Linked DNA regions of Homo sapiens. The protein of the gene in region 2 purifies or fractionates together with the protein of the main gene of each other region. This does not show direct contact. Each region holds a gene or a part of one and is shown on either strand. Other genes may lie near its edges.

The links. Proteins that work in one complex are often made in the same cells at the same time.
Region 1: the proteins of SLC24A5 (region 2) and CCNT1 purify together in Homo sapiens (affinity purification with mass spectrometry; one large-scale study listed by BioGRID and IntAct). This does not show direct contact.

The regions. Positions count from the first base shown.
Region 1 is NC_000012.12:48,695,429-48,700,380, reverse strand, and holds part of CCNT1 (cyclin-T1), read left to right. Parts: intron 1-540; coding exon 541-603; intron 604-2,197; coding exon 2,198-2,243; intron 2,244-4,142; exon of another isoform or gene 4,143-4,218; coding exon 4,219-4,382; intron 4,383-4,551; coding exon 4,552-4,622; intron 4,623-4,952. UniProt on the Homo sapiens protein: Regulatory subunit of the cyclin-dependent kinase pair (CDK9/cyclin-T1) complex, also called positive transcription elongation factor B (P-TEFb), which facilitates the transition from abortive to productive elongation by phosphorylating the CTD (C-terminal domain) of the large subunit of RNA polymerase II (RNA Pol II).
Region 2 is NC_000015.10:48,119,132-48,124,610, forward strand, and holds the start of SLC24A5 (sodium/potassium/calcium exchanger 5 precursor), read left to right. Parts: upstream 1-1,858; 5' UTR 1,859-1,913; coding exon 1,914-2,034; intron 2,035-2,725; coding exon 2,726-2,905; intron 2,906-5,479. UniProt on the Homo sapiens protein: Calcium, potassium:sodium antiporter that transports 1 Ca(2+) and 1 K(+) to the melanosome in exchange for 4 cytoplasmic Na(+). Involved in pigmentation, possibly by participating in ion transport in melanosomes.

The DNA of each region.
Region 1 (4,952 bases), on a different chromosome or scaffold from region 2:
TCAAAGTTTATCTCTCAATTTATTCTAGTTAACTTTTTTCTTTTTCTTTTTTTTTTTTTTTTGAGACGGAGTCTTGCTTTGTCGCCCAGGCTGGAGTGCAGTGGCACAATCTTGGCTCATTGCAACCTCCGCCTCCTGGGTGCACGCCATTCTCCTGCCTCAGCCTCCAGAGTAGCTGGGACTACAGGCGCCCGCCACCACGCCCAGCTAAATTTTTGTATTTTTAGTAGAGATAGGGTTTCACCGTGTTAGCCAGGATGGTCTTGATCTCCTGACCTTGTGATCCGCTCGCCTCGGCCTCCCAAAGTGCTGGGATTACAGGCTTGATCCACCGCGCCCAGCCTCTAGTTAACTTTTTTCTTAAAATATCTTCAAATTATATTTCATGGGACAATGATGTTTTTCTGGTGGAATAAATTTCTATTAATATTTTAGTGTGGAAACCAGTAAGGTGTAATTTACAATCAGTTATCCTTTTACAATAATTTGTAAAATGTAAACTTCTTAATAGTTTTTTAATCCATTACTTTTTCTTTTAAGGCTTTGAACTAACAATTGATCACCCACATACTCATGTAGTAAAGTGCACTCAACTTGTTCGAGGTAAGGAATCCCAGCTTATGAAGACTATCTCAAGCTGTTTTCCCATTTAGAGGTTGTGGTTTGTGGTGGACAATACATAATAGTTCTGCTTTGGCTAAATTTAAAGGCCTACTTGGCTTAAATCAAAATGAGTTGTTCTGACTTGATGTTTTTCTGTTGGGTTCTTACAAGTAATATTTTTAGATGATCTCTAGTTAAAGAGAACTAACCTCTTGAGAATGTTTGTCAAAGTTGGGCAGTTTGTGAAGTTATTTAACAGAAATTTTATGAAAGTTGTGAGGAGTGGGTGATCTTATTTTAATTCTGGGGTTGATTAAAGGCCACCTAGAGGATCATACAGAATTTATTTGGACTTTCCATGATATACAATCCCTTGGCAGAACTTTTCTTTTTAATTCTAATTTAACAATATTAGGTATAATTGAATGAAACTCTCTTATTTAGTTTAGTATCAAGAATATCTGAACACTATTGTGCCTTTAAGTGCCTTTTATGATTTTTAGGCCAAACTGATAATTGGTCTTATTTTACATTTTACTAATATGTGTTTCCTGTGAAAATTCCCAAATTTTCCTGAGTTCTTTATATTTGAAAGTATTAAAATGTTATATTGCACAAGGATAAGACTAGAGATGGGTGTATGTTAATATTGAGAAGACTATGTCCTGAGGAAGATAAAAATTTGCTTTGTCACCCAGAACAGTTTGTTTTGGAAGAAGTTAAATTTTTTCATTGTAATATATTACATTATTTGATGATTTGGGGATTAATTAATTAAATCTTAATTAGGGCTACTTAATTAAAAACTTTTTTTTTTTTTTGAGACGGAGTTTTGCTCTTGTTGCCCAGGGTGGAGTGCAGTAGCACGATCTCAGCTCACCACAACCTCCGCCTCCCGGGTTCAAGCGATTCTCCTGCCTCAGTCTTCCGAGTAGCTGGGATTACAGGCATGCGCCACCACCCCAGCTAATTTTTTATTTTTAGTAGAGACGGGGTTTCTCCATGTTGGTCAGGCTGGTCTTGAACTCTGGACCTCAGGTGATCCGCCCACCTCGGCGTCCCAAAGTGCTGGGATTACAGGCGTGAGCCACCGTGCCCAGCCTTAATTAAAAACTTTCTTAACAGCAAAAGTCACTTTTCCCAAATATGTCAAAGTCTTCTAGATTCTGATCTTGCTTCTAGATCATCTTAGTTCATCCTGTAGTTTAGTGATTCTCAGTGAATCCTTACATCAGAATCTCTGGGTTACTTGTTAAAAAATGCTTGCACCCTTCTCCAAACATTTAATTAAATTTTAGGGAGCAGGTCCAAGAATTGCATTTAAACAAGTACCTCAGATATGTGGTGTGCAGAATAAAGCTTGAGTACCTAGATCTGGAAGCAGCATAGTTATTAATGTTAAAATTAAAAATCATTGATCTGTCTACTTTGGCAGAATGTAAACGTCAGGTTTACAGGGACCATGTGTGTCTCATTTGCCACTATATTCACAGTACCTTGCAAATATTAAATGCTTACTAAATATTTGTTGAGAATGAATGGAACTAATAACTTTTTTCCTCCCCCACCCCTGACTTTTTTTTTTTTTCTTTAGCAAGCAAGGACTTAGCACAGACTTCTTACTTCATGGCAACCAACAGGTTTATATTTTAATTTTTTTTTCTCTTCGATTTTTGGTATAGGACTTTACTTGAGTTTGATACAGTGTGCTATAGATAATTCTCTGGTGAATGTTGATTTTTCTGCACAGTTTTCATGTTGTACTTTAAATTTCCATGGTACTTTTTAATTTTCTAAGGTTATGTAATTATTTAGTACTGATTTTTTTGATAACCTACTCAGTTCTGCATGATAGTGACTGAAAATCTAATTTGGAGTATTCTGCAATAATTATATGTGTATATATATATATATATATATATTTTTTTTTTTTTTTTTAAATTATTATTATTATTTTTTGAGACAGAGTCTTGCTCTGTTGCCCAGGCTGGAGTGCAGTGGCACAATATCAGCTCACTGCAAGCTCCACCTTCCAGGTTTACACCATTCTCCTGCCTCAGCCTCCCGAGTAGCTAGGACTACAGGTACCCGCCACCACGCCCAGCTAATTTTTGTGTTTTTAGTAGAGATGGGGTTTTACCTTGTTAACCAGGATGGTCTCGATCTCCTGACCTCGTGATCTGCCCACCTCAGCCTCCCAAAGTGCTGGGATTACAGGCATATATATATATATATATATATATTTTTTTTTTTTTAAGACAGAGTCTCACTCTGTCTACCAGGCTGGACTGAAGTGGTGCGATCTTGGCTCACTGCAACCTCTGCCTCCCGGGTTCAAGTGATTCTCCGGCCTCAGCCTCTTCACTAAGCTGGGATTATAGACTGGCGCCACCATGCCCCGCTAATTTTTTTGTATTTTCAGTAGAGATGGGGTTTCGCTATGTTGACTAGGCTGGTCTCAAACTCCTGGCCTCAAGTGATCCGCCTGCCTTGGCTTCCCAAAGTGCTGGGATTACAGGTGTAAACCACTGTGCCTGGCCAATAATTATATTTTAAAATATTCCTTTTTCTTCCCCCTCTATCAATCAATGGGCACTTATGGATGTTAAGAGTTTCAGTCTTTTTCCTTCTTCCCTTTTTAAAAAAAGTAAATGAGACTGGGCACAGTGGCTCATACCTGTAATCCCAGGCTGAGGCTGGTGGATCACTTGAGGCTAGGAGTTCGAGACCAACCTGGCCAACATGGTGAAACCACATCTTTACTAAAAAATACGAAAATTGGCAGGGCAAGGTGGCACATGCATGTAGTACCAGCTACTCGGGAGGCTGAGGCACGAGAATTGCTTGAACCCAGGAGGCAGAGGGTGCTGTGAGCCGAGATTGCCCCACTGCACTGCAGCCTGGGTGACAGAGAGAGAGACTCTGTCTAAAAAAAGTAAATGATTAGTACATAACTTGTATTACCAAATGACTTGCCCAACATTGTTAGTTAATGGAAACCAATGATATCCCTAGTAACTGTCAGGGCTAAGAAGTTCATTTTTATAGCCTGTTACGAAAAAGTTTTGAAATAAACCAACATATTTATACTTGAGAGAGTAGTTGTCTGTTTATTATTTTAAATAGACCAGAACTATGATTGGTGAGAGACAAATTATTTTTAAGATATTTCCTTAAGTTTTTGATTTACGGATTACACAGACCAAAAAGCTTACAATTTTCCTTAGGATCTGAGCTTAGTCTCAGGATAATAGGTAATAAATATTGACTTCTAGGCTTGAATACTGGCCCAGAAGTCAATGTTTTAAAGAACTTGAATTCCCAGCCTTTTTCCTTTTTTCCTTTTTTTTTTTTTTGGCTCTGGTCAATGTGTAGATTAAGTGATGTGTAATTCAAGAGTTTTTAAAATGTTGTTACCTGAACAGGTGGGTTAATAGGAAATTATATTGAGTGCTAGATCAGAGCATTGCATATTTCTTACCCTTCTTACTCTCCTGTCTATTTTTAAGCCTTTTTTTTTTTTTTTTTTTTTTTTTTTAAATAATGGAGAGTTTTAGCTTTGGGCTGAGAATTGAGAGCTCATGACACTCTCTGTTTTCTTCCCTCTGATGTCAGCCTGCATTTGACCACATTTAGCCTGCAGTACACACCTCCTGTGGTGGCCTGTGTCTGCATTCACCTGGCTTGCAAGTGGTCCAATTGGGAGATCCCAGTCTCAACTGACGGGAAGCACTGGTGGGAGTATGTTGACGCCACTGTGACCTTGGAACTTTTAGATGGTAAGTTTTAGAGTAAGGGACCTTGAAAAGCACTTGCTGTTGATCTGTCACATAGCTGGCCAAAGGTGACTTGATTCAGATGAAAATAGTTAGTTAGTAGTTCAGGTTATTCTTGTTTCATTACTTCTGTTTCTCTCAGTCTTTCTTGAATGTTCTGTTTTACTTGTAGAACTGACACATGAGTTTCTACAGATTTTGGAGAAAACTCCCAACAGGCTCAAACGCATTTGGAATTGGAGGGTAAGAATCATTACTGTCAGCTTGTGGAACAAAATCAATTTCTTTTGACTGCACCAGTGAATATACCAGTATTGAATATGTACCCTAGGTTTGGAATTGCCCTTTTTATAGTTACACAGTAATCATGACTTCTACTTCATACCTTGGATACTGTTGTAAAAGTCAGTGTCTCTATGGGATAGCAGGATTTGCTTTTCATTGTGTAACTCCTGTGATATGATCATTTGAGCAGTAACACTGGTTCAGTATTTTCTGTGTGGAAACTGGTAGGGAAAAAACATGGCTTCTCGGAGTTAGAGTATTGGCTTCTGGTAGAGGCAAGATAGAGAA
Region 2 (5,479 bases):
AGTACTAACTATGTGCAAGGCACTTCTGCTGTTCCATAGCAATTGGCTCGTACCTTCAGACACTTGCTCTCTCTCTTGAATTAGCTGACAATGTGCATTGGAAGCTTTCACTTTGGGTTTGAGCTTTTTATATTATTGGTATTTTATTTGTTTATGATGTTTTATGAATTGATTGAAGTACTGTGTGTTGAAGAGGAGAGGCTCGCAAGACACTTCCACTCAGCATAAAACTAAACGACCTCTTCCCTTAGTCTTAGCTAGCTGGCATGTAGGCCACTCCCCAGTGATCAGGGTGCTGCTTCCTGCGAGTGTAGACAGCTGGAACTCTGCTTGTTGAGAATCTGCTCTATACTGGGCTATGCTTTGGTGACTCATCATCACAGCCTCACAATCACACCATACATCTGAATATCTAGTTCCTAGAAATGACAGTTTTGGAGAGGTTTATAATGGATACCAATTCCCACAAAAAAAAGTAGTTTTTGAGACTTTCTTCCGACCCAAGATCACAAACATCAGGAAGCAACTTACTCCGTTCCATCAGATAAAGCTAGTTTCTAAATAGAAAACTTACTAGGCATATCAATTTTTGTGTTTTTTCTGCAAAGCAAAGGAACCATGAAAGTTGCAAAACTACAAAAATTTTTATGAACAAAAACGCTTCTATTTCAATTGAAAGAAAGAAAGAGAAAGAAAAAGAAAGAAAGAAAGAAAGAAAGAAAGAAAGAAAGAAAGAAAAAGAAAAGAAAAGAAAGGAAGAAAGAAAGAAGGAACGAAGGAAAGGAAGGAAGGAGGGAAGGAAGGAAGGAGAGAAAGAGGAGGAGGAGAAGAAAGGAAGGAAGGAAGGAAGGAAGGAAGGGAGGAAGGAAGGAAAACAAACAAAACAAAGAAAAAGAAAGGAAGGAATGAAGACGTCAGCCAGAGGTCGTTCTGAGCAAATTATTTGCGTTCATTTTTGTAATTCTTACCACAACCCAAATACAGGTGATCCCTGTTTTACAGATAGCAGAACTGTGTAGCAGAAAGGTTAAATAACATGCCAAAAGTCACATAACTAGTAAGTAGCAGTGCTAGGGCTCAAATCATGTGGTCTGGTTCCATAGCCTGTGCTATTAGCTATAGGTTACTACACTGCCAAAAGTTCTAAATATCTTGGCAAGCCTCATAAATGTTAGCATAGGGAAGATAGTAGTCTATATTTAAACACTACCTTGTACGTCAAATTTGCATTTTAGATAGCTCCCTCTGGCAGAAAGCACAGCCTATCAATGATCAAATAGCATCCACTCCATCTCAATAATTCTTGAAACTGTCAGCTACTCTCCATCCCCGTTGCCACAGCCTTGGTTCAAGCCACTATCATTTCTCAGCTAGACGATTGCAATGATGCCCTAACTGGCCTTTCTCCCTTTGGCCCTAACTGAAGATGAAGATGAGAGGCTAAAACAGAAATATGAAAGGATGCCGAGCTAGCCAAAGCATGTACATATATTAATATCAACCCAAACAACTTCTAGGGGAAAGGGCTGGAGAGAGATGGGAAGCAGTTGCAAACCCAACTTTTTACAAATCTAGAGAAAGTCAAAAGCAGAGCCAGTATGAAGACATTAAATAAAACCACACATTTTCATAAAGTACAAGCTGCCTTAATCTGCCCTTAGAGACTGTAGGCCATGGAAATAGCTATAGACAATGGTTGTCAGCTCTCCTCCGTCTCCTCCGGCCTCCCTGGAGATTGGGTCTCCTGATCAGAGAAGCTTGACTGGCTACACTCGCCCTTTCTCCTGTGCTGGCCTTGCTGAGATGTGCCCTGGGCAGGGTATTGGGCAGGAAGGAGACTCCTCACATGATCCAGTTTAATCCTCCTCTTCTCCCTTCCTGAAGCTGCACGCTGCAGTAAGAGCACAGCAGAAATGCAGACAAAAGGGGGCCAAACATGGGCGAGAAGGGCTCTGTTGCTCGGCATCCTGTGGGCCACTGCACATCTGCCTCTCTCAGGGACCTCCCTGCCCCAACGTCTCCCAAGGGCCACAGGTAGGTGGACATTGGGGTCAGTTAGCTCTGCAGCAGCAGCTGCTGCTGCTGCTACCACATACAGATGAAGGGACAAAAAGAGGAAAATTCTCAATGGGCTCACTTTTACTTACGCTTCTGAATTTTAGCATTTAAAAAGATATCAAACACTTTTGATCCTTCAAATAAGTTCTTAAATATACTCCAAAGTAATTCACAGAGATCATAGTAGGCCAAGTCTCCAGTTTTTGTTCTTGGAGACTTTTTGGTGAAAACAAAAAATCTTTCATCTTAGAAATTCTCTCTGCAACAGTGGATGGATTCTTTGCAGGCCTGTGAACAATTTAGGCTCTGCAATGAGAAAACGAAATTGTATAAACAATAGAAATCTTCATGTATCAGAGATACAGTTTCTACTTGGGGAAGAGAGATTCAGAAATAAAAACAAGGAGGAGTGATTTCATGATTTCCTCTTTTTAATTCTTCACCATCATCAACATATTTCATTAAGATATCTCTTTTCAGTCCCCCAAAAAAATTTTTTGAAAACTCTACAACTGTGTTATATTCAGAAGCGCTTTATACATTTTCAGTGGGTCCTTAAAATTCCACCCGGTTACCCCACACTTACAGATTTCTTAAGGAAGCTCTCTGTGGGCTTGGAATGTGTGACTCCAAACTCTTCAAACTTTCACCTCCTTTTCCTTAACAGGAAATAGCACCCAATGTGTTATTTCTCCATCATCGGAGTTTCCCGAAGGGTTTTTCACGAGACAGGAGCGCAGAGATGGAGGCATCATAATCTATTTCCTAATTATCGTTTACATGTTCATGGCCATATCTATTGTCTGTGATGAATACTTCCTACCCTCCCTGGAAATCATCAGTGAATGTAAGTGGCTGGAAAGTTGCCCTGTAACCTTCTGGGAGAGTGTGCCACACAGATATGACTGTCTTTGAAATAGCTCAGCAGCTGTCCTGTACTTCTCAACTGGTTGCAGAGCACCAGCTTCTTGTTGTGGGGTCCCGTGTCTTAAGGAACTGGTCGAGTGTGGTTTCTCTTGGTAGTTAATGTGAATCAGAGTTTCTTCAAGTTAGAACCCGGCAGTTATTATTTTTCTGCCTATTTCCAGAAATCTCTAGTTTGTCTACTGCCTGGATGTTTGTTATAAGAACTGTTCCAAGATTTCACTTGTATGTACTTTGTGTGCGCTCCTAATACAATGAAACTCCTAATATTTGCCATTTTATGCTTCAAAAAACTTTTTTTTATTTTTACTCTAAGCTCGCTATAACTTTGATTATAAAAAGTGATAAACAAATGCAATTAAGGACCACCCTCCCCATCTTCCTTTCCCAGCATCCTACCATTAAGGAAATTAATTGATATTTAAGAACCAATAAACAGATAGATGAATAAGTCCTGTATCCTAAGTGACCTTAGACATCAGATGACTGTAAAATCAGTTATTAAAAATTAAGAGCTCCATTTATTGGTTTCTGAAAATAAGATCAGCCGGTCCAAGCCTCTGAGCTCTGTTCCTTCAGCAGTATATGTTGCCCAGAATTCTGAGCATAGACCTTCACTGGTGCACTGGTCCCTAAACACCAGGATAGCAGTTATGTTCTGTGCCATATGAGCAAAAGTGTGTTTCTAGACTTGGTCTCATGTTTGGTTATTTATTTGGCTGAGCATGCCCACATTACAGCAAAAAGCAATGTCAAAATTAAGGATTGGGTTTCCTATTGCATATTCACAAGACTGCACAGTAACAGCAGCGTCCTCAACCTCCACCCACCGCCCCCGACACACACACATTGCTGCCATTTCTTTATAAAGGGAAAGAGCATGAATGTAAACTCTCCCTTTTCCCATCACCCCACCCCCAACCCCTGCTGAAATGCAAAGCGAATTATTTCCTCCCTTGTTCACTGCAGTATACCAGAATCTGTAGGCTCTAAAACAGTAACTGGTGATAGCAGAGGCACTCAACACCTATCTGTTTAATGAAAATATATAATATATATATATATGATAGATTAGCCTAATTTATTACAATTTTTCTTAAGTAGATACAAACATATGCTTTTATCTTGACGTTACATCTTATATATAATTGATATTTTCTTTAATAAAGATTAAATTATTTAACAGTTTTACTTAGATTAATGAAATACAAGAAAAATAGAAGAGAAAGATAAAATCACCTGTATTTCCATCTACACAGTTACCATTTGGTATATTTCCTTTAAATCTTTTGAATCTTGCTTTATATACAGTTTGGGATCTTTCCTTTTTTTCACACAATATTTTATAGTGCACATTTTCCAATATTATTAAACATTCTTCAAAAACATTATTTTTAATGATATCATGATAGTCCATGATTCTATAAATGATTTGAGCGTCTGACACTGGTTTTTACACATAGTAGGCACCCAGTAGAAATTTATCATAAAATTTAAAACTATTACTCTCATTGGACATTTGGCCTGTTTTAAGTTTTTTGTGTTAATGTCATGCCCATAATTGTATAAAATCTTTGCACACCTCTCTGATCATTTCCTGATTAAGAGGCAGAGATGTGGATATTTTAAGTCTTATGATATATATTTGCAAAAGGCATCCCACAAAAGGTGTGCCTACTTATACCTCCTTAAGCATCCATTCCAGAAAACCATGAAAAATATGTGAAATATCCTTGGTTGCTTTAACCTCCCATTATTTTATAAAATTTGTGTTTATCTTATTATCCATGAGGGTGAATATTTTATATGTTTATTTTATTTTATGGTTTTCCTTTTGTGTTTTTTTGCCCATATTATATCAGGGGTATTCTGTCTCTTTCTTATTGATTTTCAAGACTTTAAAAATATATAAGGATATTAACCCTTTTTCTAGTATTACTTCATATCATATGCTTTTTCATGGTTTGTTTGATTTTGCATTTTGTGTTTATCACATTGAAGTTTGAAGTTTAAATATTTTAAGTAAATTTGTAAATCTTTTTCTTTATGGTTCTCCTTTTGGTTTTATAACTAGAAAGGCATTTTTATCCATAGGTCACAACAATCATCATATTTTATTCTACATGCAGGATTTTTTAAAATTTATTTATTTTTTCCACTAAGAATCTGTCTTGCTATAGGATGTAATGTTCTTTTTTCCAACAGTTGATCAATTTTCATATACTAAGTTCTTATATAGATGTAGATCTGTCTCTATGCTCCCAACTCTGTTCTAATAACCTTTTTGTACATTCTTATGCCAATACTGCACTTTTAATTAGAAAAATGTAAAAAACTAAAAATTGAAAAATTAAAAATGTTAATCATATAAAACACAGAAATTTAAATTGTAAGGAATAATTTCCATTTCTAATGACTTAACTGAACAATGACATGACTGAAAAAATAAATCTATCAAGAATTTTATTATAAAAATTATCTTAGGAGAAGTGAAAAA